7 linked regions of the Homo sapiens genome follow. The protein of the gene in region 4 purifies or fractionates together with the protein of the main gene of each other region. This does not show direct contact. Each region holds a gene or a part of one and is shown on either strand. Other genes may lie near its edges. The genes, in order: STEAP3, RDH14, ACVR2A, MRAP2, MFAP3, LTAP1 and FGFR2.

The links.
Region 1: the proteins of MRAP2 (region 4) and STEAP3 purify together in Homo sapiens (affinity purification with mass spectrometry; 2 studies listed by BioGRID and IntAct, with this or other methods). This does not show direct contact.
Region 2: the proteins of MRAP2 (region 4) and RDH14 purify together in Homo sapiens (co-immunoprecipitation; 3 studies listed by BioGRID and IntAct, with this or other methods). This does not show direct contact.
Region 3: the proteins of MRAP2 (region 4) and ACVR2A purify together in Homo sapiens (affinity purification with mass spectrometry; 2 studies listed by BioGRID and IntAct, with this or other methods). This does not show direct contact.
Region 5: the proteins of MRAP2 (region 4) and MFAP3 purify together in Homo sapiens (affinity purification with mass spectrometry; 2 studies listed by BioGRID and IntAct, with this or other methods). This does not show direct contact.
Region 6: the proteins of MRAP2 (region 4) and LTAP1 purify together in Homo sapiens (affinity purification with mass spectrometry; 2 studies listed by BioGRID and IntAct, with this or other methods). This does not show direct contact.
Region 7: the proteins of MRAP2 (region 4) and FGFR2 purify together in Homo sapiens (affinity purification with mass spectrometry; 2 studies listed by BioGRID and IntAct, with this or other methods). This does not show direct contact.

Annotation. Positions count from the first base shown.
Region 1 is NC_000002.12:119,247,394-119,251,997, reverse strand, and holds part of STEAP3 (metalloreductase STEAP3), read right to left. Parts: intron 4,320-4,604; coding exon 3,792-4,319; intron 3,685-3,791; exon of another isoform or gene 2,927-3,684; intron 1-2,926.
Region 2 is NC_000002.12:18,553,564-18,558,098, reverse strand, and holds the end of RDH14 (retinol dehydrogenase 14), read left to right. Parts: intron 1-2,290; coding exon 2,291-2,908; 3' UTR 2,909-3,376; downstream 3,377-4,535. Other genes in the region: NT5C1B-RDH14 protein, read left to right, coding at 2,291-2,908. UniProt on the Homo sapiens protein: Retinol dehydrogenase with a clear preference for NADP. Displays high activity towards 9-cis, 11-cis and all-trans-retinol. Shows a very weak activity towards 13-cis-retinol. Has no activity towards steroid.
Region 3 is NC_000002.12:147,913,994-147,918,597, reverse strand, and holds part of ACVR2A (activin receptor type-2A isoform 1 precursor), read right to left. Parts: intron 3,408-4,604; coding exon 3,264-3,407; intron 1,316-3,263; coding exon 1,172-1,315; intron 152-1,171; coding exon 6-151; intron 1-5. UniProt on the Homo sapiens protein: On ligand binding, forms a receptor complex consisting of two type II and two type I transmembrane serine/threonine kinases.
Region 4 is NC_000006.12:84,057,226-84,061,829, reverse strand, and holds part of MRAP2 (melanocortin-2 receptor accessory protein 2), read right to left. Parts: intron 1-4,604. UniProt on the Homo sapiens protein: Modulator of melanocortin receptor 4 (MC4R), a receptor involved in energy homeostasis. Plays a central role in the control of energy homeostasis and body weight regulation by increasing ligand-sensitivity of MC4R and MC4R-mediated generation of cAMP.
Region 5 is NC_000005.10:154,041,211-154,045,814, reverse strand, and holds part of MFAP3 (microfibril-associated glycoprotein 3 isoform 1 precursor), read right to left. Parts: intron 1-4,604. UniProt on the Homo sapiens protein: Component of the elastin-associated microfibrils.
Region 6 is NC_000001.11:154,207,803-154,211,091, reverse strand, and holds part of LTAP1 (protein C1orf43), read left to right. Parts: intron 1-3,289. UniProt on the Homo sapiens protein: General regulator of phagocytosis. Required to uptake Gram negative bacterium by macrophages.
Region 7 is NC_000010.11:121,479,969-121,483,878, forward strand, and holds part of FGFR2 (fibroblast growth factor receptor 2 isoform 1 precursor), read right to left. Parts: intron 3,836-3,910; coding exon 3,730-3,835; intron 2,210-3,729; coding exon of another isoform or gene 2,204-2,209; exon of another isoform or gene 1,856-2,203; intron 146-1,855; coding exon of another isoform or gene 83-145; exon of another isoform or gene 54-82; coding exon 1-53. UniProt on the Homo sapiens protein: Tyrosine-protein kinase that acts as a cell-surface receptor for fibroblast growth factors and plays an essential role in the regulation of cell proliferation, differentiation, migration and apoptosis, and in the regulation of embryonic development.

The sequences.
Region 1 (4,604 bases), on a different chromosome or scaffold from region 4:
GTAGAAGACCCAGTCATGGACCTCTGAGTCGGGTATGAAGTAGTGTGTAAGAAAAATAATAAAAAAGTATTTACAAAATGCAACAGATTACAGAGGCAGGTATGGGGAAGTAAGGGGATAGTCTGGGGGAGCTTAACAGAGGTAGGGTTTTGAAGGAGGAATAGGAGTTTGCAAGCTGTCAAGGTGTCCTGGGGTGGGCGTTCCAAGCCGAGAGGAATGAGCTCTGCCCATTTAGAGGACAGTATGGGACCCAAGTGTTGACACGTCACAGGAGAAGGGGAGATGAGGCTGCGGAGGGAGTCTAGCTGCATAGTGAGGGTTCTACCATTATCCCAAGGACACTGGGGTCACTGGATCTTTTCAGCAGTGACATGGTCAGATGAGAGTTTCAGACCATCCTGTGCCAGCCATGTGCAGATGTAGCTTGGGGTGAAGGTAATAGGAGAACGGGGTGAAGGTAACAGGAGAACAGTGTGCAGGTTAAACATTTCTTTGATCTTGATCTTTGAGTTTGATGTTGAAATGTGTATTTCCAGGGAAATACACAAGCAAATCCAAATGCCCTGTACAAATATCGGTTATTGTTGGTAATAATACTGTCTGTAAACATGGTCTCAAAGGTTTTCTCTACAGCTGGCATACACCTTTGCCTCCTAATCTGCAGACTCAGGGCTGTAAGGAAATCTTGGAGGAGTTTCTTGTGCCTAGACTAATGTGCTCCCTTGACCCAAGGGCCTAGTGGGCAGTTGGGGTGGTGAGTGGCCATGTGGGGACCCTGTGGTGAGGTGCCCATGGGCTGGCAGCAGAAGCCACACATCAAGCCTGAGCCACCCAGGAGTCCCTGCTGTTTGGGGCTGAAGGCAGAACAGCCTCAGGTGCCCAGGCCCAGAACCGCGGGCATGGCTTACCATGGACCATCCAGAATCTGCTTGGATGTGCCCAGGCTTGGGCACCTCCCCGTATCTGGGCTGCTGTGTGTCAAGCCCCTGCCTCCCTCCGACCACCCACCCCGACATAACCACATCAGCCCTGGTTTTGCCCTTAAGAACTCTGCAGAACAAGTTTAAGCCCCTTTGCATGAGAGGCCTTCGGTGTCTCTGACTGATCTCGTCCTGCGGGAGGGATGGTTGCCTGGCAACCTCACCAGGGCCTGCAGCCCTAAAGATTTTTGGGACACGGGGAAAATTACCTTGCATGCGCCCCTCTGTGCCCTGGTATTTGCATCAGGGCAGAATTGGGTTAACAGAATATCAGGGAGAGCCTTGGCAGGGCAGAGAATTTAGACAAAGGCAGTTGAAGGGTGGCAGGGGAGGGAGGGAGCAGTGGTGTGTCTTTTACCCTGGGGGGTAGTGGGCACCGTCCCCGTCTTTCCCACTGCTGCTGGAAATACCTGCCAGCTCAGGGGAGAGGGAGTGGGCTCCTCCATGCAGATCTGCCCCGTCCTGGGCAGCAACATTGTACTAGTCCCCAGGGAGCCCCGCAGAGCCTCCTGCCAAGGGGCTGGTGCTTTGTAGAAGTCAGTAAGAAAATATCGTCAAAGAGCATTGAAAACATTAGCACTAGGAGAGAGCTTGATCTACACATCAGGGCCTCGAGGACAAAAGAGGGGCTGTGACTTGCTCAAGGTCAAGATCTTTGTTCCAGTCAGCGATGCTGGAGAGCAGGAGTCCAGCCTCTAGCCTTCAGGCCTCCACACCGCCCCACACCAGCTGAGGCGAGGAGCCAGATGGTCTGTGTCTTTCTTACTCCTTTCTGTGGCCCCAGGGCCTGGCAGAGTAGGTGCTCAGTGAATGAGTGAATGAATGACCTAGTTCTGAAATCATTTACTCAATTGTGAATTTGGTTTGCCTGTAGAAAGCAGCGTGGGTATAAGCATGGATCTGGAAAATAGCTGGATCTGAATCCCAGCTGTGCTACTTACTGACTGTGTGACTTTGGCCAAGTTACTTGACCCCTCTGTGCCTCAGATTTCTCATCTATGAAATAAGGATATAATAGCACCTGGCCTACAGGGATGAGATGGGGTTAAATGAATTCACAGTGGTGTACGAAGCTCTTAGAATGGTTCCTGGAACACAGCGAGCTCTTGTTAAGGGTTCATGACTGATTTCTTCCCTTCCTCTCATTTCCATCAAGCATCTTGCTTTTCTGCCTGAAGTCTGGGGTTCTTCCTTTGTCTTAGGAAATTCTGAGCCCACAGATGCAATGATGCCGGTATCTGTGGGTGGCAAAGGACGAGGGCAGTCGAGTAGCTGCTGGCAGAGAAGCAGCAACCCTGACAGTGAGTAGGGGCTGAGGTCTGTGGTTCTCAGGAGGTGCCCAGCCCTGCTTCCCAGTCCTGCCAATCCCCCATGCTCGGAGGGGATGGCCCTGTGCTAGGTGTTTAGGGGAGGGCCCAGCCTCACCAAGGTCCCTGCATTCTGAGCAGGAGCAGGAGCTGCAGGGGCTGCCAGGCTGGAATGAGGGGTGGATGAGAAGTGTCTCACCAGCACCTGGGCTGAACCCTGTTGGGTGACTAGCGTCCTGGAGTGGGCAGGACCTATGCATCAACCAGCCCCGGGGCTGGGCACTGGAGGTGGAATTAATTTGGAGAAAATAAAGACAGTGTTGCTGAAGATGTGAGCTTGGGACTAAGAATCAAGCCCCATGAGCTTGTGGACCAGGAGGGAGCATCAGGGGCCTGTTTCTGTGGGCACAGGTGCCAGCTGATGCCTGGGTCCCCACCTGGTGTGGCCTGAAGGTCCTCCACTTCCCAGGAACCCTGCTGGCAACCAAGCCCCATATGAATTTTCTAAATGAATGATTAGTGCCACCCCCAGTAAAACAAACAAAGAACAACAACAACAACAACAAACCTAAACCTGGAATGCTCACTCCTGCAGCCTTCCCCATCTCAGCTGATGGCAACTCTCTCTTTCAGGTGCTCAGACCCAAACCCCAGAGTCATCCCTGATCACCCACAAAACCCTGGGGCCATTCCAGCGGCAATTCCATGCACTCCAGCTTCACATGTGCCTTCAGGATCTCCTTGCTCCTCCACTGCTCCCACTGCCTCCAGCCTCCACTGCCTCAAATCTGGGCATATGCACGGCTTCCTCGCTGGCCCCAGCAGCTAGCTGCCTTTGACCTCCTACAGTCTGTTCTCAGCCAAAAACCAGAGAGAACCACTTAAAATGTCAGGCCGATCAACACCTAAATTCAAACCTTCACCAGCTCCCTATTTCACTCGGAGCCTAAGGCTGAAGCTCTTCCTCTCAGGCCTCGCCTGCCACCCCCTCCTTGTTCAGCTTTAGCCACATGGGCCTCCTGGCTGCTCCTCCAACGTACCAGGCACACTTCTGCCCAAGGACTATGCCCCGTGGCCTGCAACATCACCCCAGCAGGCCACCGGCCCCTCTCCCCTCCTTCCAGCTCTGCTCACATAGCACTCACTCTGCAAGTCCTCCTGGACCATCTTCAAACCTGCACCCCCACCGCCCACGCTTGCTTTCCTTTGCGCCTTAGCACTCCTGATCCTCTCAACGCCCACTATGACTCACTGCTGTATTTTGTTTAAGTCTGCCCCAACTGGGCTGTACCCATGGGGGCAGGAATTTTCATCTGCTTTGTTCACTGATACTCAAAATCTTGGGCAGGAGGATGTGGGTGCTGCCCCATTGGAACAGAATCTGCAGTTGGCACCTGGTAAGGCTGCACCCGTGGGTATCGGCTGCACCTGGTTGGTGGGGGGGGGAGGTGCTGGACAAGCATGTGCTGAGTTGCCAGAGGGAGGAAGGGCATGGGGTGGGTACCTGCTTGACTGCCAGGTTGACCAGGTCGTAGCGGTGGGCGCGGCGCAGCGGCAAGCAGAAGCTGTAGAGGGCGTGCAGGGCGGCGCAGAAGAAGCTGAGCAGCCCGATCTGCTTGCGGTGCTGTAGCCAGTGGTCCAGCCAGTCGGGGAAGCGCTGGTACTTGGTGCCGCGCCGCAGCTGCAGGGCAGCCGCCAGCACGCCGGGCAAGTACACGAGTGACAGCAGCACGTAGGCCACGCACGGCAGTGTGGTGTTGACCACGGACACGGGCAGCTTGAAGAACTTGTTCTGGCTTTCCTGCACATAGGGCTGCAGAACGTCCCGGACGAAGTTGTAGGCATAGAAGCAGACGAAGAGCCCCAGGGCCAGCAGGGTGGGCACCTTCCAGGCCGGGAGGAGGCGCAGGGGCATGGCCTCCACCTCCCAGGCTGACGCCAGGGATCCCATGTCCACGGGCATGAAGCCCATGGCGAGCGCCATCTCCGAGACAGCACGCTTGGCTTCTGGCTGGTCACCGCAGATGGGCACCTGCGGGAGAAAAGTGGGGCAGTCAGACGGCGTCACAGGCCACAGGAGTGGGCAGGGCCTCACTGAGCAGCTGAGGAAACCGAGGGCCAGAGGGGCAGGGACTTGTTCAAGTGAGCTGCCAGTCAATGGTACAGGTGGGAGCCAATGGGGTTCTAGCTCCCAGGCTAGGGGTCTTTTCTCTGCTGCCCAGGCCTCCCAGCCTCTGGCCCACCTGCCAAGCCAGGCCAACTACTCAAGGAGGGAAGCTGCAAACAGTAAGCATCTTGCCCAGCTCGTGGACATCAG
Region 2 (4,535 bases), on a different chromosome or scaffold from region 4:
CATTGAAAGGAATATAGCACAATGTAATGTTCAAGCTGTGAACCACCTGGAGCTAGTAGTTTTGAGGTATTGAGCAAATATCACTGTGTTTCCCTCGAAAATTTAAAATATTCCACAACACCCTGAGAGTTTGCTGCAATGCTGTAGGCCACAGTTCGGGAGCTGTTGCAGAACTAGAGAGTTGGTTTTTTGTTTATTGCTAGTATTTAATTATGTGTAACACAGGTTAAGAAATAATACTCATCAGTGAGATTTTGGAAGCATTAAAGATGGATCTTTCTGTTCCTCTTTAAAATATAGATGGGGCTGGGTTTGCTTCTTTGGCACTTGAGGCAGAACTAATTAAAAAGTGAGGACACAAAGAGATAATTAAGTTGTCCTTGCTTCTAAGTAAGTATTTCTGTTCCTGCCTGGCTCTGAAGTTAAGTGACTATAATTAGAAGGAAAAAAAAATGGAAATGTAGATTTCCCACAGGTTGGTATTCTTGGTATTTATTTCATTTATCTCGTAGAATTTAAAAAAATAGTAAATGACAAAATTTTAAAATAACACAAGCCCAGCAAAGAATGCTGGATAACAAATGATTAATTCAGGAAAATCTTCCAAAGGATTTGTGAAAAAGAATACTCCTTTCTTTCCCCCATGAGTGAACTCTTGCCTTCTTTTTGAAGTTGACTATTGGAAAACCCAAAGATGCTTAGACAGGGCAGAATGAGAAATAGTTAATCCTCTGACAGGTGGGCTTCGATAACAGTTGTGAAATGTAACACATTTTTCTTTTCACTTATAGTTGGCAGAAGGGCCAGTGAAATTTGAAAGTTGACCTCATATTAATCATGGGTCATCACAGTGTCTTTACACTTGGAACATGTGCATTTCTTTGTCCATCAAAAGAAACAGAACAACCGAGAAAAGGCTAGAGAAGACCATCTTACATGATTTAAGGAATAAAAAGACTTCCCTATGAGAACAGTCTAAATTTTAGGACTTTAATTTGGAAAGATACAGAAGCATAAGTTCAGAGTATAAAATGTTGACTGTACAGATCTCCTAGAGTCCCCTTTACGCTGGATATTTTTATATTACCTGATTATTTTTTTCTTAATCTTTGATTATTCTTTATGAATCTCGATTTATTCATGATGTTCTCTCCAGTGTTAAGTTTGCATTTCTGACCTTTTCTATTGCTTGTTTCACTTTTAAGGAAATGACTTGAAGTTGTTCCACCCCCATGGTGCCATTTACCCTGAGAGAACTACAGAATAAAGCAACCATAAGTTTGCCCTTGGTGTTGATAACCAGTAGCTCTGGGAATAAACTATGCTTACCTGTTTTCTACAGCATATGGTCTGTCTAGCTTTCATTGCCTCTCTAGCTGTTTTGAAAATCCCAATTAGAAAGCCATGCCAGCTTACTAATTAAGAAAATAGGCCTTGGTGTCAAAGACTTCATCTTCAGATCTGATCTTATTTTGCTACTTAGGAGTTCTGATACTGGGCAAGTCACCTAGCCTGTGAGCTTCATTTGCTTATACAGTTGTTGGAATTAGATGTGGTGACATGCGAAAAGCACAAAGCCTGGCTCCTATCAAGCTTCTGCATCTATTTTTTTTTCTATTTTTCTCTCAATTATTGGAAGCTCATAGAAGCATTTTGGGATAGAATTTTAGTAGTTTGCAAGTATTTTTAAACATTTTATCATAGGTACACTTATAATTTTGATATGATCTCAGTATTAACCTGATAACTCCCAAATTGATATTTTCCTAGTTCAACTGAAATTAAAGGGAGAAATATGGGATTGTAGGAGTGCCTTGTCCTCAAATTGACTGTATTTCTGTTTTGAGAAAGATCTTGGTACTGATCACGTAGTCAACTTTCTAATGCAATGTTAAAGTTTATATATTTGTAAATGTTATTGTTATAAAAGCATAAAACCAGAAATTAAGTCTTAGATTTAGTTTCTACATCTTTTATTGGAAGATGACTGTAGATAAATATCTTTCTGTATATCATTTTAATAAATGAGAAAAAAGAGCTGTTGAATGAAAGATCATGAACATCAGTATTTATCTGAGGAACATCCTGCGGAGGAATCCCTTTCCCCATTTATTAAACACAAAATTGCCAGTGTTTCAAGTAGTTCTCTGATCGATAGACCAACAACTGAAATTAAATGCTTTTAGTCTCAAGTGCCCATTTTTATTAAAATGTAATTATCATGAACAGAAAAAGCAATACAAGGCGTGTGTTCTTAATAATTCTGCCATTCTCTTTTTGACATTTAAAGGAAGAGCCTAGGCTGGATGTCTTGATCAATAACGCAGGGATCTTCCAGTGCCCTTACATGAAGACTGAAGATGGGTTTGAGATGCAGTTCGGAGTGAACCATCTGGGGCACTTTCTACTCACCAATCTTCTCCTTGGACTCCTCAAAAGTTCAGCTCCCAGCAGGATTGTGGTAGTTTCTTCCAAACTTTATAAATACGGAGACATCAATTTTGATGACTTGAACAGTGAACAAAGCTATAATAAAAGCTTTTGTTATAGCCGGAGCAAACTGGCTAACATTCTTTTTACCAGGGAACTAGCCCGCCGCTTAGAAGGCACAAATGTCACCGTCAATGTGTTGCATCCTGGTATTGTACGGACAAATCTGGGGAGGCACATACACATTCCACTGTTGGTCAAACCACTCTTCAATTTGGTGTCATGGGCTTTTTTCAAAACTCCAGTAGAAGGTGCCCAGACTTCCATTTATTTGGCCTCTTCACCTGAGGTAGAAGGAGTGTCAGGAAGATACTTTGGGGATTGTAAAGAGGAAGAACTGTTGCCCAAAGCTATGGATGAATCTGTTGCAAGAAAACTCTGGGATATCAGTGAAGTGATGGTTGGCCTGCTAAAATAGGAACAAGGAGTAAAAGAGCTGTTTATAAAACTGCATATCAGTTATATCTGTGATCAGGAATGGTGTGGATTGAGAACTTGTTACTTGAAGAAAAAGAATTTTGATATTGGAATAGCCTGCTAAGAGGTACATGTGGGTATTTTGGAGTTACTGAAAAATTATTTTTGGGATAAGAGAATTTCAGCAAAGATGTTTTAAATATATATAGTAAGTATAATGAATAATAAGTACAATGAAAAATACAATTATATTGTAAAATTATAACTGGGCAAGCATGGATGACATATTAATATTTGTCAGAATTAAGTGACTCAAAGTGCTATCGAGAGGTTTTTCAAGTATCTTTGAGTTTCATGGCCAAAGTGTTAACTAGTTTTACTACAATGTTTGGTGTTTGTGTGGAAATTATCTGCCTGGTGTGTGCACACAAGTCTTACTTGGAATAAATTTACTGGTACAAATTCTTAACTGTGCATTTCTTTGGAGGCTTCACTGAATACAGTCCTTTATCATGTCACCATTAGCCTATGCTGATCTTGGTCTGCCCAGTCTCTTCTTGCCACGTATCTTGTACACTGCTCTGAGAGATAATATTCCTAAAACCCAAATCTATCACATTCCTGCTTAAAAAACAGTGGGTTTTGAGCCTTAAAAAAAAAAAAATTTGGCAGAATTCTTTCTTCAAAAGCGGTGTTTCACTGAAACGTAGAAGCTGGAGGGGGTAAAGCAGGTTATCGCAATGCTGCCAAGGTGGAGTCCCCCACGGCAATTCCTAAAGGGATTTCATAGAATATAGTGGTTTATAAACCACTTTTATTTAGACTAAAGATTAAACTGTTGAAGATAGAGTTGAGGCTCCATGAGACAGCACCATGCTTACCCTATACTCTCATACTCAGCACTGTTCAGTAGAACTTTGCAGTGAGGAAAGGAATACTCTGTGTTGTCTGATGTGATGGACTCTAGAAACATGGGATTATTAAGTACTTCAAATTCAACTGAGAACTGAATTTCTAATTATATGTAATGTTAATTTAAATAGGCACATGTCTAGCAACTGGTATCTTGGACAGTACATCTCTGGTCATCCCATCAGATAATCCAGTCCTGATTTTAGAACAGTCACCTACTCACTTGCTTTGGGCCTTTCTTTATATTGTTCTTTCAGTCTGGAATGCCATCTCCTTTTTCCTTGGAAATACGACTTACCCTTCAGGTTCCTTTCAAATGTGTTCCTTTCTCCAGCCCCCGTAGGCAGAGACAATTCTCTCTTCCTACTTTTTTTTTCCCCCTTGATCTTGGTACTTTTACTAGGAGTTTAGTGCACTAATTATTCATTCACAGGTTCAGTCAGATAATCAGAATAGAAATTCTCTAAGGAAAGGAGATTTATTTTATTATTAGCTTTCCTCCATCAAGAATCAAGTATAGTGCCCAGCACACAGTAAAAAATCAGTAAATAATGGTATGCATAAGAATAATTGAGCCCAAATAGGAATATTGCAGGCATCTGTGTTACAACATCAAAAGTATCTACTTAATTTTAATTATTTGTTTCACTATCTCATATCGGAAAAAGGAATTATAACACTAAAGTATAGACAGTTACACTGAATTTAATGACTAT
Region 3 (4,604 bases), on a different chromosome or scaffold from region 4:
TCTACCTGTGAGATATGGCAGGTTTGTGGCCATCTTTTAGGCCAGGTATATCCTCATGTAAATATGCCAATCCTCTAGCCATGGTTTCTGCAATATGACACAGTTCATTCCAAGAGACCACATTAGCCTTAAGAAAGTCTGATAGTGAACCCTAAAAAAAGAGGGAAAAAAAGAAACTTATGTTCTTGACAAAGGCCATATGTATAAGGAGACTTTTCTTTTTACCTATAAGAGGTTGTGAGTTTCCCTTTCAGGGAAAAATAATATCCAAGAAACAATCTTTCTGGAATGGTTCAAATGGTTCAAATTTCCTTCCATTTCACATTAATAAACATTTGACCAGAAGGAAATACCAGAGCTTTAAACTTTTGTTACAAGAATAGTCAACTTCCACCAATCTATAAGACAAGTTTGTTTTTTTTTTTTTTTAAAGACTAGTTGAAAATCTAAGGTTCTAGAAAATATTTTAAAAGTTAAAATATCCTGACTATAGAGTTGTTATATCATGGGACTAGCAGAACACAAAATAACAACATAAAATAACAACTAATATGTAGAATATTCCTCTAGATTATTGTTGTCCTTTAGGTCAAGATAAGAGAAGTAAAAGAACCACTTACATTTCACAATGATGAAACCAATTACCAAAAACATAATTTCCTACTTCATTAATGGTACTTTCACACTGACTCTAAAAGTAGAAAAATTGAGGAAAACTAGCAATTACATTTTGGTGATAATTACCCTGCAAGTTAGTGACAGATCAAAGATCAGATAAATTTCCTGACTCTGGTTTTGTCACAAGCAAGACTGATTAAAACTTAAAAAAATGGTTCACGTAATCAAAATGAATTGTAAATGGTAAATGAAAATTACTAAGCATTACCTACACTAAAATAAATGTTTGTAAGAGTAATTACAGCACAAGAAATAAGGAACAAAAGGGTGGTTTATATGAGTAGAGTTTTAGGTTAAAAAGTTGCCATCTTTGCTCTTTTATTAAAATAAACTACCTTTTAAAACATTTTTATTCAAGAATGATTTTTATTTTCAGGTTAAATATTAATCAACTATAAGATGTCTCGAAAAATAACTCTGAGGGATTTATAGCCAGCATTAGGTAGGCAGGCCAACTCAGACTTTACTAAAGTAAAACGTTAAGTAGTTTTACCTTTTCATGAAATGCTGTGATCAGCCAAAGATCCACATCAACACTGGTGCCTCGTTTTTCTGCACCAATGAACTGTAATATGTTCTCATGCTTCATTCCAGGCAAACTGTAGACTTCGTATTCATTTTGCCATGACTGTTTGTCCTAGAGTCAAAAAGAAAGAATAGTAAGAACACAAGGAATACAGGTTTAATAAACCATGCATAAGAGATTACTCAAATAAGTTCCAAAGTAAAACAAAACAAAACAAAAAAGTCTTAAAAAATTTTTTGTTCTGTTTTGTAATAAGAAAAAGCTCTGACAATAGGTTAACAAATTTATACTAAATGCCTGCCCTTTTCATTCCCTCAAAACGTACTTTTCTGTGTTTCTAGTTTACAAACACAGAAGGTGATCGGAAATGCTGCATTCTGTGTCTTACAATGGCAACACGTAAGTTACTGCAAGTATTACACTGTAATTTCATCATGGTGTGAAGTTACTTGTGGTACTATTCAGAATAATCTCCTTGAAAGATGAAATTCCGGCAGAATGACTTCCTCTAAATAGAAAACTTCTTCTTTTCAAAAACTAACATAATATCAAACATCCTTCAAAAAATGTTTAGCATACCCTACAAGGTCTATGAGAAAGCAAGGGGCAAAGATATGCAATGCAATAATTTAAGACACCATATATTCACTTGTGCCTGCAAGCAATCCATGTCTACTAAGTATCTACTTATAAAAGATTAGCTTCTTTTCACTACTAAAAGACAATAATAGTAAGAGGCACTATGGCATAATGGTTAGAAACCCTTAGAAACTCTCTGCATCCAAACTGTCCAAACTTAAATCCTGGCTCTCCCACTAACCTCTGGCAAGTTACATAATCCTTCAGTGTCCTCATTAAGTAGAAAAGGCATTGTAGTGTCTGTCTTATAGAATTGTTGTATTATATGTTGCATTTTATGTACATGTGGGTAATATACGTACACATATTAGTGAGTACTCATATATGTAAAACACCCCTACCTGACCCAATAAAAGCATACAATAAAATGTTAGCTACTGTTGTTGCTGTTGTCGGGCTTGTTAATATCATCCAAATGCCTTTCTCTGAGCTTTATGCTTCCTTACACATGGAAATAATTTCTTCCCTTATCTTATTTATGAATCTTGGCACAACAGAATACACTTTCTCTCTGAAAACTAAACTGTGGTTTACAGCTACCAAAAAAAAATGTAATACAGTTCATAAACTCTATGTAAACAGTTTATAGACTGAACAGAGGAGGTAAGATTGAACAGAGGAGGTAAAAAGGTTAAAATCTAGGTATATTAAGACAAAGAAACTGCTTATATGATAACTTTGGAAAAAGAAACATCCACTCTCTAAGTATGGTGGTAGAGCCTGCAACACCAAATCCAGCCAAGACGTCAGTACCAAGGGTATCATGAGCTGCCAGGGTATATAAGCAAGAGATGGGGAAGACAGAATCATCATAAATCTATACCACCAACGGAACAAAACAAAACACAAGAATAGCTCAGAGGTACATTAGATCAGAGTTTTATGAGAAGTCCAGCCAACCTTAAAAACAATTCAACAGTAAACCAATTATTTGAAGTCTCGATTGCCTCTGAAAATGCATCAAACAAAAACTGAAATAATTAAACACTCAAAGTAGAATGAAAGTAAGTCAAGTCTGGTGATATACCTCTAAATACCAATTCTAAAACAAAGTATACTGCTCTTTTGTTTTTTTGTTTGCTTTCTCTGACAACGTAGGGGGATATTAAAATTTAACCACTCAATTAGACTTGTTTATTGGAATCTTTATCTTTATTTAACATTTCTATTAGAATTTTCACTGGCAAAAGATCTACTATGCATTCATTTAATTCCACCACTCCAGACAAACATAATGATTGTTATATTAACAATTCCATTTCTCAGATGCAAAGGCAGGCATTAAAAGAGCTAACTGCTTTCCCCAGTATCACAAAGAACCACCTTGGTACATATGGCTTCTGTTTTGAGACTATTTCTGAGTTATGATGACCTAGCCATAAAACATGTATGTAAGATGACAAAACTGCAATAAACATACCTGTATTGGAAATATTTTGACAGCCACATATTCGTTAAGCAACTGGGCTTTCCAGACACAACCAAATCTTCCCCTTGCTTTCACTTCTAATAACTGCAGTGGTTTCAAACCTAGTAATGGAGAAGGTGGGGGTGGTCCTGGGTCCTACAGATAAATAATAATAATACTATAAATAAGCAGAACATGACACACACCAACTCTGAAAATGAGAAAAAAAGTGAGTATACTGAAAAGTCAACTGACAGAAACAGTAAACACATATGAATGACATTAACTTCAATGTTGCCATAATTAGATTACTAATTATCTATAGTGATCACAAGGCAGGCAACCTGAATTCAGAGTTTCATAATAATGTTCAGCATTATTGCTATATATGTACCACAGGAGAGAAGATCTAAAATCTTTCTGATCAGTCTCAGTAATATTCCCCACTAAGATTTTCTGTGAACTACGAAATACTCCTAACAATATTTCATTTGTTTCATCCAGTGTGTACTTCGAGGAGGATGATTTGAAAAGTGCCAGAAACAGCAAATTATGACTATATATCAGCAAAAACCTCTCCTGAAGATCTATTACTTTCTCCAGTGACTGTTTAAATTTTTTCTTCATTAATCTCAGAGATACCGGCAGTCATTCTTAAACACATTGCAGATAGGTATATCAAATACAAAGCACATACAGGAAATATGTAAGTAAATATTTCTTTAACCAAACTGGTTCATTCTAATTTTAAACATATTAACAATTCATCCCTTTGATCTGAGATAAAAAATCATTTGTGTTCTGGAACTGACTGACTGGCAAAGAAGTACGAATAAAAATCCAGAAAAGAAGTGGTCATCATAGTAGATAACAGGATATGGTAAATGAAAGAAACGTGCACTGCTATAGTTTTTTAAAAATAGAGCAAACATAATATATAAATAGGAATACAGCATCTACAAATCACAAGGAAATCCTATCAAAGCAGAATGCAACCCTCCATTGAAAGCATTCTCTCAGTTCCCTATCTGCAACTAAAGCAAGATGCAGGAAGCCTTTTGGAAAGCTTCCAGAGAAAAGCAACAGAAGGGTTTGGAGGGCTGCATAATGAGTATTTTGAGGAGGAACTAAAATTTCTGTGGCAAAAGCAACTGATATGATGACACTGGGTGGCACCTCAGACACTTGGAAATGGTATGTGATCCCAGATCAATGCATCCTCTCTGCCTTTCTTTTTCTCTCTTCTTCTAATGCCTCAAAGACAGTTAGTGCTTTCTTTAGGCATCACTCAGCTCACTGGTGCCACTCAGGAGTTTTAAAAGTTTACTGTGTACTAGAAAGAACCTCAGCAAC
Region 4 (4,604 bases):
ACATCTGAGAAAACAGTACACCACAGGTGCTGGCTACTGTCATTAGAATTGTCATTTTCTCCCAATTTACCACTTTAAAAGCCATGTGTTTCCAATCAAACTAGGGGACACTGTGTCCCTGTATTTACCTTAGCCACAGCTTCCTCACAGCCACACCTTACCAGGGCTCTTACCACTACCTGGCTGGAACAACTTTTCCCAACGTGGAGCTAATGAAAGTGTATCCATCCTTCCAAGTCCATCCGCTACACTATCTACTAAGCCTCAACTAATTTCCATAATTGATGTGTTGTCTCCCTCCTTTGAACCCAATAACATTTTTGTCTGTAATTCCCTAAACAGGGCTCTCCTTGGTCCTATCTTGGATAACAATCACAATTCTTTATCTCTAGGACCAGGGTTAGATTGGATTGTCTACAGAACTTGGTACTTGCACAATAAGGCCTCAAATCTAGGACACAACAGAGTTGAATCATTCTACATTTTTTGGCCTACACTAAGAAGCTTGTCTATGTGGAAATACAATGAGGATGCTTAGCAATTTTCTAAAAATAAGTGATTAGAGCTTAAATATTAAATGTGTTTAAATGCAAAGCTTTATTCTAATTAAATTATGTATATGTAGCACTTTTTCCAAAGTGAAGAAATCAGATTAACAATTTACTCTGCATAATTCATACTTTCATCCTACATATACTATTGCCTAGAGGTTAACAATGTGTATTCAGCACTCTGAAAAACTAATGTGTCTAACCTTAAGTGCCAAAGAAATAGAAATTGTATACTTTGCCTTTTAATATAGTAGAAATGAGGCATAAAAAAAGACATAAGGGCCAGGCGCAGTGGCTCACGCCTGTAATCCCAGCACTTTGGGAGGCCGAGGCGGGCAGATCACGAGGTCAGGAGATCAAAACCATCCTGGCTAAGACAGTGAAACCCCGTCTCTACTAAAAATACAAAAAAAAAAAAAAAAAAAATTAGCCGGGTGTGGTGGCAGGCGCCTGTAGTCCCAGCTACTCGGGAGGCTGAGGCAGGAGAATGGCGTGAACCCGGCAGGTGGAGCTTGCAGTGAGCCAAGATCGCGCCACAGCACTGCAGCCTGGGTGACAGAGCAAGACTCCGTCTCAAAAAAAAAAAAAGATGTAAGGACAAATACCAAACACCACATGTACTGAGGTACAACTAACATGAAACAATTAAATCTCAACTATCTAGGCATGGACTGTGAAGAAACATTGTACAGATAAATAACAGTTCCCTACACTGTACTTTATCAACTGCCTGCATAGCAAAAGCAAATTCTAAAATTATACACCAATGCTATATTTAAGTCTTCGGTTTAGAATTGAATCATGTTGATTGACATTTTTCAAATCTGTGTATTAGGAAGGTGTTCTCCTAAGGACAGCTTTCACACTGCAAATGGTGGACTGACTCCCAGAGGTGGAGGAAAGCGTGCCCTCAACCCAGCCCAGTCCCCCTTCCCTCTGCCCTTCTAAGTACCCCCAGGGAGATAATCAAAAAGCAGCAATAATGTGAAGCATGGGAGGGTTACAGCCTTCAGAGAAGGCAGGTGGCGGCAGAGTTGGGGAGAGGCAGGCTGTGGGTAAAATCTGAGAATCCTCATGATCCAACAGCATTTCCAAACATTTCCTTAATAATGCGGCATCTATGTTTTTCATGGCAATATGCTTTAAGTAGCTCTGCTTATTCACATTTCCCTTTGAACAAAATTTAGCTTCCTCAAGTTATTTCCACTAATTTCCCCCAACCTCATCTTCTGCCCTATGACCCATCCCCAGGGGATTTTCTCACCCTGAGCCTCTTACAAGAAACATCAGAGATCCCCATCTCATCCCAGAAATATCCAAACTCTCCTGAAGTTTTATTCACATGTAAGTTTCATGGGCATAGGCACTACAGTAAGATGGGAAAAGTGGAGCCCGTTGTCTTCCCAAAAGCATCCTTTTCTGGGAAGAAGTCAGAATAAAGCTTTATACAGAGCAAAGCTCCAATGAGGCTAGATGGTTAAGAAAGTCAAAAGAAGCCTTCCAAACGAGTTTCCACCACCGCCAAGCTACCACACTCTGTCCTGTCTAGACACTGAGCTACTTAGAGACTACTATTGTAAAGGGGTAGAACAATTGCCCAGGGGAATTGCAAATGGAATGCGTCAGAATAAAGTAACCCCCCTTAACCTAACCTTTAATGAATGGAATGGAACAAGAGAGCTGAAAGTTGACATGATTTTTTTCCTTCCCAATCTAGGGTAGGACTAGGTTAACTACTCCATCCGACTCACCCTCCTCTCCACCTCCTGAGAATAAATGGTGAACTTTCCACTTCGTGGTTATATGAAAAACAAGGGTTAATACTTCACTTGAAAGAGAGGTTCATGACACTTTCCTCACACCACTTTTTGTTCCTAAGGCAGTAGGGCCAATTCTGTGATATGAATTCCTGGCAAAGAGCCAACAGTGATGTTCCCACACTTGTCTCTACTATCTTACTCCAAGCCTTTGCAAACTCTAGCTGTTTCTCATCCTAATGACCTGGCTTCTTGCTGACCCATCCATGCATGGGTCTGGTATCTGCAAGGTGGCACACGAAAAAGCATGAATTTGGCCACCACTGATAGCTCAAATTAAGAGGCTATTCCTTTAGTCTTTTCTCAACACAGCGGCCAGAGTGGTCCTGCTAAAATGTGATTGTCCACTCATTGACTCATCAGCTTTTGCTTCTGATGCTTTAAGAACACCCTGTCTCACCCAGCCACACTCTTCATAAATGACCCATTCCTCTCCTTCCCTTTATAGTGAGACACTTGAGAGATTTGTCTGTACATGCTGTCCCCAATTCCTCTCCTCTCATTTTTTCTTGAACCAATTCCATCAACCTTTTACCCCCAGCATTCCACTAAAACTGCTTTTCAAATCATTGCCAGTAACTTCTACATTATAAATCCAATGGTCAAATCTCAGTCTTCAATTAACTTGACCTAATAGCAGCATTTGACACAGACTGTCTTTGCAACCCTTTTTTCAGTTGGCGTCCAAAAAACCACAATTGTCCAGTTTTCTTCCTACTTTCTGTACATTCCTCTCAGGCACCTATGCTGCTATGCAACCCTCCAACTTCTAAACACAAGCGTGCCCAGGGCTCAGCATTGGACTCTTCAGTTTTCTGTCTACACTCACTTATCCAGCCTCTTGGCTTTGAACGCATACCGTTTACATGCTGATGACTCTCAAGTCTACGGCTTCCCCCGACACCTCTCCTCCCTTGTCCTCCTGGATATGTGATAGATGTCTCAATTTAACAGGTCCAAAACAGAGCTCCTGGGGTTCCTCTCTGAAACCTCCTTCTCCCATACTCTTCCCCCTCTCAGTTAAAGGCAATTCCATCCTGCCAGTTACTCAGGTCATAAATCTTCAAATCATTCTTGACTCTTCTTTCTCTTACACATACCGCCAATCCATTGACAAATCTTGCCAGATCCATCTTTTAAAAATATCCAGAATGTATGCATTTCTCACCACTTCACTCTCCCTACCTGGCTCCAAGCCACCATCATCAGCTGCCTGGACTATGGCAAAAGCCTCCTGAATGGTCTCTGCTTCTAATCTCATGCCTTTCACTCCGCAGTTGCAGAGTGATCTGTTGAAACCTAAGCCAGATGGCACTCCTCTGCTCCAGACCCTCCAGTGACTTCTCAGAGTAAAAGGCCAAACAAAGTCCTTAGCATGACCTCTAAGGCCCCCCCATGTCCTTGTCCCCACAGCCTCTTTGACTTCGTTTCCTGCTGTTCTGCCTCTTATCACTCCCCTGGTACCACGCTGGCCTCCTTGCATGATCCAGTTCACTCCCGCCAAGGATCCTTTTCTGGGATGTTCTTCCCCCAGATATATTATAGCTCAATCTCTCACTTCCTTCAGGTCTTTTATCAAATCTCTCCTTCTCAGTAAGGCTTTCGATGGCAATTCTATACTGTCGCCTCCACACTCCACATCCCTTTACCCCCACTCTATTTATCCTTTTATATTGCCATCTGACATTATCTATTTAACTATTTATTGTCTGTCTCTCCCACTAGAATGCAAGCTCTATACAAGGAAATATTTCTGTCTTTTCAGTTCACTGTTGTCTCTCCAGTGCTTAAAATAGTACTGCACATAACAGGTGCTCAATAAATATATATTGAATGAATGAATAAATAAATAGGTTTCCACTTTGTTGGTGCCAAATCTGTATCAGATACATGTCCACTTCTGATACATGATAAGGTTTAATATTGGATTCAAAACTGATGGCAAAAGAATTCTCAAGCACCATCTGAGGTTGCTTCTCAGATGAAACACCCTTTGAAGGTAGGAATCTTAATTTCAGCAGAGGAACTCAGTCTAAAGATGGAGCTATTGTTGCCAAGTGTGATCCATTACAGGTAAGGCAAATAAAGATAACTGTTATGGTCATTCCTGTCCGCAATGAGTGCTTCCCCTTGAAATGTCCTGCTTCTGTTCTTTTGAATCTGCATCTAATTAGCTTTGAATTTTGCCCAGCAAAACAAGGAGTCATACTTGAAGGTCAGAGTCACAGCATTTTTA
Region 5 (4,604 bases), on a different chromosome or scaffold from region 4:
TCTAATAAGAGCAGGGTAGCAGAGAGGTTCAGAGTATAGGATTCAAATACGATCTGTGACTCTAACCAGCCTTGCAACTTTTATAAATGACTTAATCTCCCTGCCTCAGCCCCTCATCTTTAAAATGGGCAAAATAACAGAATCTATTCTCACAGGATTATTGCAAAGTCTGAATGAGGTAGTATACATAAAACACAGAGTCTGGCAATGGTAATCACTGAATAAGCTCTATTATTATTGTTCATGGTTCTTTCAGATATTGAACTAAAATTTACATTTGATAGTTACATCATTATAAAACACTCAGAATACCATGCAACCATTTAAAAATCTTGGGGGTTGGGGGGAAGGGGACACCATTATGCAGTTTTAATCTTAAATTTAAAATTTCACATTTTTCTTTTTCTCATTGCAAATATTTTGCAATATTATGGAGCATATAGGCATTGTAAACTGAGCTTGGATCCCAACCATGATATGACATTGTATGTGTCCTCAGTTTGTGGTAGAGAAGATTTGTCGTGATCTACTTACCCAACGGCTCCCCTCTTTGAGCCCTATCCCTATCTTCTTGGGTCTAGGAGGAAGACAACCTATTGGCAAAGTAAGCTAATAGAATCTTTGTTCTTGGAACTTGGAATTGAGACCCTTGTGGGTCAGGGTCATTTGAGGAAAAGGAGGCATGTGGGGGCTGAGGCAGTCAGGTTTGGGCCACATACAAGGAGAAGCTGTAAGAAAGGACAAGAGGGATGGGGAAGGGAGAGAGTGGGAAGACAGGAAGAGGAGCAGGAGAAAGACAAAGAGAGACTCATACATGGTGCTTTGGTGCCTGATAGAATTCTACTTCCTGGCACTCCTGTGACCCTTTTTTTTTTTTAAAAAAAGAAACAACTTTATTAAATTTTACTCAAAATTAAAACCACAAAAGTGAAGATGAATGTGCAAACACGTAATAAATGCGGAAATGGTTAGGCAGGAGAAAAAAGATTAAGTTCACAAAAAGTTATTGAACTGTGTCTGTGGCTGCCAGGCAATCTTCATCATAGATCTCTAGTCTCTTCCTTACACAGTGGAGTGTGGCAAGCAAACTGCCCATGTGGCCAAGATTTGTGGTTCTTGTGTTGTACAGACATAGCCATTTGCCTCTACCTACCAGACAGGATTTAGGAAAACACTATAAACTCCCTTAAACTGCTCTTAGGCCAAACATGGCAGAAGAAACCTGGCACACTGATTTTGAGCCACAAGAGAAAGAGGCTGCACAATAGCCTTACACATCCAGTTAATACTGGGCACTTCACTCATACCATGTACATCCTGAACACAGAGGACTTCTGATTTGAAAGACTAACGGATATAACCCATTTGCAGGTAACAGGCTGTTCAGCAGCTGTGAGAGAAAACACTGGCAAAGATACGTGTCCAAGAAGGTGACAAAGCAGAAAAAAATAGTGAGGGAAGAACAAATCATCCTTGGTATCAGGGTACTATTATTTCCTCACACTAAGTCTCCTTTTTGCTAAGTCAGCTTGAATGGGTTTCTGCTACTTGCAGCACAAACTGCATTGACTATGACCATTCTGCTCATTCTAGACTAATGACTTTAAAACTACAGCTCAGCTAGGTCAAGGATCCATCGTGGAAGATGAAGTACAGTAGGTGGTGCAAGAGTTGCTAAGGAGAATTAGGACACTGTCCTAGACCCTCAGGAATTTACAAACCAGCTTGAAAGACAGCCCAGAAACAGCCAACTGTATCTAAGACAATGTGACTGAAATGTAATTATATTGTGAATGCAACAGAGAAAAGACAAATGTGTCAGTTCTAGGAATGCAATTCACTTATATGTTTGGGACTTCCTATAATATTAGGCCTGCATGCTTTGAACATATGATCCTTTATACTATAGTTATTTTACTTTCATTTCCAATCCTTTAATTTTTCCTCACATATACAGCCTCAGATGCAGAATTGTTCACCAAATCAGTTAAGTGGGCTGAGGTCATTAAGGCAGGTATATTAGATGCCATGGGAGACACAAGAGTACGTGCATTTGTATTTGGAAAAAAAAATATATATATATATATTATGCCTGCTGTTTTTAATGTAGCAGCTGACATTTGAAACCCAAGAACAGATTTCAAAAAGGAAAACCAAAGTGTCACCTTCTTCTTATCAGTTAAAAAGGGCTATACTATGTTTGTGGATGAAGTTACTTGATAAAATTTTTTATTACCTTTCCTTTTTGTGTGTGTGTGTGTGTGTGACGGAGTTTCGCTCTTGTTGCCCAGGCTGGAGCGCAATGGTGAGATCTCGGCTCACTGCAACCTCCACCCCCCAGGTTCAAGCGATTCTCCCACCTCAGCCTCGCAAGTAACTGGGATTACAGGCATGCACCACCACGCCTGGCTAATTTTTTGTATTTTTAGTAGAGACGGGGTTTCTCCATGTTGGACAGGCTGATCTTGAACTCCCAACCTCAGGTGATCTGGCTGCCTCGGCCTCCCAAAGTGCTGGGATTACAGGCGTGAGCCACCGCGCCCAGCCTATATTACCTTTCTTCAGCATTAATAAATAAAAATGTAATAGATAAGTGTAAGACTCAAGTTTAATCCAACTCCTTTTTCATCTTTCAGGTATACAGAATGTAAGCTTTGCTAGGATCATAAAGAATCAGAAATGTGGATGATTTTACCCCAGAAAACCATGTTGAATATTGACTATATTATTTTTAAAAAAGAGAAGAGCCTATAGCTGTCACCCCTAACAGATTGTCTTGTTGCCGTTCCTGCCAACTTCTGAGGGAAGAAATATTTCCATTCTGTTCCAATTTTCAACACAAATAAGGAAGTAATATGGCTGATTTCCGTTCTGGTGACTCAATATTAAGTTGGCTGAGGAAACTGATGTTTGCAGAAATAGTTCTGGGAAAATGCAAAGCAGGGAAACACATTGATGCCCAGGTGGTATTTTTTTTTTTTAAACTCCAATTATATTGGGATATTAGTGCTTCATTCTCTATAATCAAATGTGTTCTAGGCTGCATTTACAGCTCATCCACCCTTCTCTGCCTGCACTGTCACACTTGGAAAACGGACCAGTTCCTACAGCAGGCACACAAATTGACAAAGCAGCATTCTGAATCGGCAAAGGGGAGAAAAAGCAAATGAAGAGCAGGTTGTTAGCACTACCCTACCCTTTGCAAAGAATAAACACAAAGTTGTTCTGCCTAGACTCAAGCATTATTATAGGGATCTGTAACTAAAAAAGGTTAGTGACATTCAAACAGAAATCACTATCCTGAGGGCCATTTACTCAAAAGTTTCTAATTAAAATAGCCTTTATATTACTACCTTGGAGCTATCACATACCCCATAACTAGCATTTGGTCAGTCTGAGCTCAAACTTCAACATATCTTCTGGCACCTGGAGAAACATCGTCTGTATTTATCAGAGCTTTGCTTTAAACCCAGGATTATTTCAGTTATACCCATAACTTATATCCTTTTTGCCATAGGTATATTTGCTGAATAGCTACTGGATGCAAATGACAAAAACATCAATGAAACAGGCTTAGATTTATGATCTTCCCAGGCCATTTTTCCCCCTCTATAGTCTGAAACATCTCTATTTGAAACTCAGTCTAGTTAAAACAGAACTCCTCTTACCCTCAGATCTACTTGTTCAGCTTATGAACAGCTTAGATAATAGCCAGACAATTCTTCCAGTTTTGCAGTATCAAAATTGTAAGACAATCATGGCTCAGTGGTTAGGAGAATGGGCTCTAGAGTTAAGGTGCCTGATCCTACCCCTGGGTGAAGCCATAGGCTTGCAAGGCCTTAGTTTTCACATTTATTAAATAAAATAATATTAACAGTAACTGCATCATAGGGTAGTTTTGAGGATAAGATGAACTAATGTGGGTAAATTATAAATATATGCTATTGTTATTATTCCACCTCCTACACATTTTTCAATTAAGTCCTGTTGTCTCTGTCCTAACTCATATCCTTTTATCTCACCTGGGTATACCACACTATCCCCTTAATTTCAGAATGGATCTCCTTAACTCCTTTTACCTCTATGATGTATCCAAACACTGTGACACTCAGAATTGGTCCTAAACACAAATCTGAGCAATTCAGGGTAATTTTACAATCTACTGGTGATTTCTCACTGCCCATGAGATAAGCTTAAAATTCCAATTTGGCATTGTAATTCTCCAAGAATAGATTCAGGCAGCAGAACAGAAAGTCATGAGAAGCCCAGAGGTGCCTCTATGTACGATAATTGCTTGCAGGAGGAATGAATGGATTTAAACATTAAGTCTGGTCTTTAGTTTTACCTCTATCACAAATTAGCTATGATGTGCTCCAGTGGTTTTAGTTTCCTCACCTAGAGGCTGATTATCATTATCATTCGTTTCTTTGCTTAAATCCTATAATCTACCCAGCTTTCCTGCCATGGCTGAAAGCCTAAACTACGCTTGTTTTACTTTATTCTCTCTAAATAACTTTTCACCTTACTAGTTGTTCCTTTTGCTTAAAAATCTTTCTGCCCCTTCCCGTCAATATCTTTCTGGGGGAAACTGTACCCTCTCTATA
Region 6 (3,289 bases), on a different chromosome or scaffold from region 4:
GAGGTTGCAATGAGCCGATATCATGCCATTGCACTTCAGCTGGGGTGACAAGAGCATGACTGTCTCAAAAAAAAAATAAAAATTAAAAATTAAAAAAATCTATTTTTACTACCACTTAAAGTATTAGTAACCATGTCTGAAACAAAGGCCATCGCTATAGAGTCAGCTGTTGAGCATTTGTGTCACAGGAGAGGATTCATGGCTTTTGTTTGGGAATGTTTTTAATACACACTAAACATAGTCTCGTATTTTCATGCAAATGTTAAAATCAAAGTTCTTGGCGAGAAAGGAAAGCCAATCTAGAGTAAAAACTTAGGCCGGGCGCAGTGGCTCACACCTGTAATCCCAACACTGGGAGGCCGAGGCAGGTGGATCATCTAAGGTCAGGAGTTCAAGACCAGCTTAACCAACATGGTGAAACCCCATCTCTACAAAAATACAAAAATTAGCCGGGCATGATGATGTGCGCACCTGTAATGCCAGCCACTCAGGAAGGTGAGGCAGGAGAATCGCTTGAACCTGGGAGGTGGAGGTTGCAGTGAGCCAAGATCGTGCCATTCCACTCCAGCCTAGGCGACAGAGCGAGACTCCATCTCAAAATAATAATAAACAGTTAGTTACCAGCCATAAAAATAATCTGTTTTCTGCTATGTTGAATATTGCTCTTTTTCAAGAGCTTAAGGGGTATGTCTCTCCTGTCTTCTCTCTGTCCCTAAAAATGAGCTACGTTGTCTTAAAAGATGAAAGGGCCAAGGCCTGGAGCAGTGGCTCACGTCTATAATCCCAGCACTTTGGGAGGCCAAGGTGGGCGGATCACTTGAGGCCAGGAGTTGGAGACCAGCCTGGCCAACATGACAAAACCTCATCTCTACTAAAAATATAAAAATTAGCCTGGTGTGGTGGCACATGCCTGTAATCCCAGCTATTCCAGAGGCTGAGGCAGGAGAATTGCTTGAACCCAGGAAGCAGAGGTTGCAGTGAGCCGAGATTGTGCCACTCCAGCGTGGGTGACAGAGCAAGAGTCTGTCTCGAAAAGATGAAAGGTCCTAGTAAAAACTGCTTAGAAGGCCAGCTGCAGTGGTTCGTACTTGTAATCCCAACACTTTGGGAGGCTGAGATGGGTGGATTACTTGAGCCCAGGAGATTGAGACCAACCTGGGCATCATAGTGTAACCCTGTCTCTACTAAAAATAAAAAAATTAGGCCAGGTGTGGTGGCTCACGCCTGTAATCCCAACACTTGGAGAGGCCGAGGCGGGCGGTTCATGAAATCAGGAGAGCGGGAACATCCTGGCTAACGTGAAAACCAGTCTCTACTAAAAATACAAAAAAAAAAAAATTAGCCGGGCGTGGTGGCGGGTGCCTGTAGTCCCAGCTACGTGGGAGGCTGGGGCAGGAGAATGGCATGAACCCAGGAGGCGGAGCTTGCAGTGAGCCAAGATCGCGCCACTGCACTCCAGCCTGGGCAACAGAGCAAGACTCCATCTCGAAAAAAAATTAGCTGGGAGTGGTGGCGACCACCTACCTGTAGTCCCAGCTACTCAGGAGCTGAGGTGCGTGTACCACTTGTGCCTGGGAGGCAGAGGTTGCAGTGAGCCAAGATCATGCCACTGCCCTCTAACCTGGGCAACAGAGTGAGACACTGTCTCAAAAAAAAAAAAAAAAAAAACTGCTTAGAGCACTGATGAAAATGAACATGTAGAAAGGCTGGAAAAGGGCATTTGGTCTAGAAGTCAGCAGAAGCCTGTTCAAAATTCACTTTCTTTGAAAGATAAATACTAGATGATTCCAGTTATATGAGATACCTAGGTAGTCAAACTCAGAGACAGAAAGTAGAATGATGGTTGCAGGGGCTGGAGAGTGGGGGAAATAGGGAGTTGTTCACTGGGTATAGTTTCAGTTTTGCAAGATGAAAATGTGGAGGTTGGTTGCACAACACTGTGAATATACTTAACACTACTGAACCATACATTTAAAAATTCTTAAGATGGTAAATTTTATGTTACATGTATTTTACCACAATCTTTTTAAAAATTATTTCTGAAGGCCAGGCATGGTGGCTCACGGCTGTAATCCCAGCACTTTGGGAGGCTGAGGCGGGTGGATCACCTGAGGTCAGGAGTTCAAGACCAGCCTGGCCAACATGGTGAAACCCTGTCTCTACTAAAAATAGAAAAATTGGCTGGGCATTGTGGTATGCACCTGCAATCCCCAGCTACTCGGGAGGCCGAGACAGGTCGCTTCAACCTAGGAGGCAGAGGTTGCAGTGAGCCAAGATTGTGCCACTGCACTCCAGCCTGAGCAACAGAGAAAAAGACTCCATCTCAAAAACAAAAAATTATGTTTGATTTGTAGTTTCTAGGAATGTTCATTGGGTTTAGTGAAGAGTATAGGCTTTGAAATCTGACAAACTTAGGTTTGAATCCCAGGTCTGTCACTTAACTAGTTTTGTGACCTCATACAAGCTAATTATTGGACCCTTAGTTTCCTAATCTGCAAAACAAGGTGATACCTATATTGGGGATACCTGTCTCTGAAAAAAAAGCTTGAGCCAGAGGCAAGAACTCTGGGAAATTGGTTTCTCTGCTGCTAGTTGTTTTTGGTATGAGTAGGTGTGTGTCAGGGTACCCAAACAGGGCCTTTATTCTGTCACCCAGGCTGGAGTGCTGCTACTTTTTTAGGGTGTGTGTGAGAGAGAGAGACAGGGTCTCAGTCTGTCGCCCAGACTGGAGTGCAGTGGCACATTCATGGCTCACTGCAGCCTCGAATTCTGGGTTCAAGCGATCCTCCTGCCTCAGCCTCCTGAGGAACCAGGACTACAGGTGCTTGCCACCATACCTGGCTAATTTTTTGCAGAGATAGGGTCTCACTTTGTTTCCCAGACTGGTCTCAAACTCCCCTGGGCTCAAGCGATCTCTGGCCTCTGCCTCCTGAAGTGCTGGGATTACAGGTATAAGTGACCATGCCCAGCCTCTCTGCTACTTTTTTTTTTTTTGAGATGGAGTCTTGCTCTGTCACCCAGGCTGAAGTGCAGTGGCGCAATCTTGGCTTGCAACCTCTGCCTCCTGGGTTCAAGTGATTCTCTTGCCTCAGCCTCCCGAGTAGCTGGGATTACAGGCACCCGCCACCACTCCCAGCTAATTTTTGTATTTTTAGTAGAGACAGGGTTTCACCATGTTGGCCAGGCTGGTCTCGAACTCCTGACCTCAAACAATCCACCTGCCTGGGCCTCCCAAAGTGCTGGGATTACAGGCGTGAGCCACCGCGCTCAGCCTCTTGTATTTCTAAGC
Region 7 (3,910 bases), on a different chromosome or scaffold from region 4:
TCAGGGTAACTAGGTGAATACTGTTCGAGAGGTTGGCTGAGGTCCAAGTATTCCTGAAAGAAGGGAAGAGAGACGTTTTATTTCATCTTGGGTCAGGATAACAAGGTGAATACGGTTCGAGAGGCTGACTGAGGTCCAAGTATTCCTGAAAGAAGGGAAGAGAAGAGTTTTATTTCAAACACAAACTCTTGAGATGTGGGTATTGGACGTGGGACAGGACAGGAGACCCCTAGAAGGTGAACAGAGACCCAGCCCACCTGACTTCCACGAAGACCTCCCTGAGACCACGTCTGATGTACCCCAGGCTGTCCTTAGCTTTTCTCTTGGAATCCATCATAAATCAACTATTGACAGGTAGAGAACAATAAAACCTAGTTGAGCTATAGGTGCTGGGCAGGCAACTCGGCTTCACACGGACCTAAATAACCCGCTGAGTCTACACCACCTCCTCACTAGAGCCCTTGCTTCAAATGCGAGCCCCAGCAAAATGAAAACCGGTAACATGTTGTGGGTCCCCAGACCCCCTTTAAGTAGTTGAGACTATGAATATTTATTTTCTGAATTACATTTTACTATTGTAGTTTCGGGGATAATTGAAGGGGAATACTTCTTCATTCAGTGGGTAATTTAACAGATGTAACTGATTACTCTCAGAAGCTCTCCGAGTTGAAAATGTAAACAGGTTCAAAAAAGGCTTAGACATACTCATGTATGTTAAATCCATAATGCACTGTTAAAGGAAACTTCAGGAAAATATCGGTTAAGTTTCAAAGTTTTGAAGGTTCGAGATTCAGAAAGTGTCCTTTGCTCCCCAAGGCATCCAGTGCTGGTGCTGCAAAAAGCCCTCTGGATCACCCCAGGGTGACACTTCCTCCGACTTGGGTGCCCACAGACGACTTTGTATGGCCTGAGGGCTAAAGATGGTCTTTAACATTGGTAAGCGGTTGAAAAAAAAAATCAAAAGAAGAAGAATATCTTATAGGATTAAAATGAATAAAATTTATATACAATTATATAAAATTCCAATTTCAGGATCCATAAAATTTTACTAGAAGACAGACTAGAACACATCTATTTACATATTGTCTGTGGCTACTTTGAGGCTACAGTGGCGAAGTTGCAACAGAGACCACAGGGCCGGCAAAGCTGAAAATATTTACTCCCTGGCCCTTTACAGAAAGCAGTTGCCGACCCCTGTTCTGAAGCTATGAAAAGCTTTCTAAATTGGGAACTTGTGGGTCTCTCTGCCTCCACTGGGCTGGCACAGTGGGGCAGTTCTGCTCACACATCCAGAAGCCAACAACTATTCTATGACATGTGGTTTTGCTGAGAGGGGGCAAAAAGTGCAGACCACAGCACAAACAGCCTCAGTGTTATCAGAAAAGAGCCCATGGAATGTTGGCAACTAGACATTTTTAAAGACACACACACACACACACACACACACACACACAAAACCCTCTAATTCATCACCAGGGTTGGCAAGAGAAAGAGTCCCCATCCCAGCATCCCAGAAGGGGAATGTATCAGTTCCAACAACATCAGCATTAACCACACAACTGGAAACAAACACGCCCACCACATCAAAAGAGAACTTTTTGCTTACAATGATAAAAACGAAATTTTGTCCTAAATGGAACCGTTTTTCTTGAGCATATGGTAATGATTTTCAGAAGGAAAGAAACTTCGATTTTTATATCCACCAGACAATATGGCATTCTGCTTTTTTATTTTAGGGTACTAGATACAAATTTCAGTATCAACGGACCCACTCTACATGTAAATATATAAATAAATCACTTTGAGCATAGACATGAGATCATTAAAATAGAACTTTAGTGCTTTTCCCGGTTTCTTTCTTTTTTATTTTTATTTTTTTTTTTTTTGAGACGGAGTCTCGCTCTGTCGCCAAGGCTGGAATGCAATGGCATGATCTCGGCTCACTGCAACCTCCGCCTCCCCGGTTCAAGTGACTCTCCTGCCTCAGCCTCCCGGAGTAGCTGGGATTACAGGTGCACACCAACACGCCCGGCTAATTTTTTGTATCTTTAGTAGAGACAGGGTTTCACCATGTTGGCCAGGCTGGTCTGGAACTCCTGACCTCATGATCCGCCTGCCTCGGCCTCCCAAAGTGCTGGGATTACAGGCATGAGCCACTGCGCCTGACCAACTTTTCCCAGTTTCTCAATGAAGCCATAAACTTTCAGATCTGATAGGAAAAAAACAGGGATATCAGTAGATTCCAAGTCTACAGTTAAAGGAACTTATACTAGAAACAACAATTTTGGCAGAAGAAGAAAGTTGGTTTCTTCCCCCCCTTGAACCGTTCCTTTCCTTTCAACTTCTGAAGGTCAGCTGTATTCATTTAAGTGCAATCTCTTCCTTTATCCAGCACAGGCCACAGTCAGACGCATAAGATAAAGCTGCTGAGCTAAGACTTCATATCACTACATTTGATTATTACTTTTTAAAAAATCACTCTAAAACTATTTCCTAAATCAGAAATTAAGTGTATTATTTTCCTTCTAAAATACTTGGGGGACTTTAACTTTTTTCTTGTTGAGACAATTGCATGGTTTGGAGTTAGTTTCCTGTGTAAAAGAACACTATTGTGCATCCTCATTAAATATCTCAAAATACATTCATTAACAATTTCTCTATCTTAAGATTTGACTAGACTTGATGGGTTTATCATCTTTCCTGCTCAGAGCATATGCTTTCCATAATTATAAAAGGCACTCTATCTGCATATTGAAGGAGCCACTGACATGGCTAAATTTGCACAGTGAGTGACAGACGAGTGTTTATTTTGTTGGCAAGGATCATAAATTATTATTATTTTCTTTTTGAGATGAAGTCTTGCTCTGTCTCCCAGACTGGAGTGCAGTGGCGCAATCTCAGTCACTGCAAACTTCACCTCCTGGGTTCAAGCGATTCCCCTACCTCGCCTCCTAAGTAGCTGGGATTACAGGCACATACCACCACATCCAACTAATTTTTGTATTTTTAGTAGAGACAGGGTTTCGCCATGTTGGCCAGGCTGCTCTCGAACTCCTGGCCTCAGGTGATCTGCCCTCCTCGGCTTCCCAAAATGCTGGGATTACAGGCGAGAGCATAAATATTTTAGGGAAAATAAATATTTTAACAAAAGGTACATGTTTTTATGTAAAAATCATGTAAGTTGCTCATTGTAGAAAACAGTGTATGTTTATATACACCTAGAAAGAGGCTGCAAGGCATATAGCATTACCAACAGGATCACATAGGATAGTACTGTGGTAACAGAAGCTGGTGTTAGAAAACTTCATTGTATTCCATCAAGCAAATGATGACGAACATTATCAGTTTACCCACTAATGACCAAAGCACAGAATCAAACTTGCACAGGAATCCAAGCTTTTTCCCATGCACACCAAAATGCAAGTGAATACTGCTTCCCCTTTCCCACTCTCCCACATACCCCGGACTGCTCCACCAGCAGCTACACTGAAGGCAGCCTCGGGGATGTCCCTCTGTCTTTGGTTTCATGAGTCAGAACTCACAAAATGAAGTTCTGAGAAAAATCATGATTTGAGAGGAACCCATAGTTGAACTATCTGACCCTATGGAAAAAGAATAAACAAGACCACAGACTCCAACCAACAGCCAACAGGGGAGTGTGTGTGTAAAACACTACGCATGTCTCACAAGACAACCAAGGACAAGGGGCTTCTAGAAGGAAGTTCTTACCTCATTGGTTGTGAGAGTGAGAATTCGATCCAAGTCTTCTACCAACTGCTTGAACGTTGGTCTCTGGGAGGGCACTGCATGCCAACAGTCCCTCATCATCATGTACCTGGGAAAAATGGATTTCCTTGAATTAATTTCATATGCACTGGGTACGTGGTTATAGTCAGTTTTAATAGGCAAT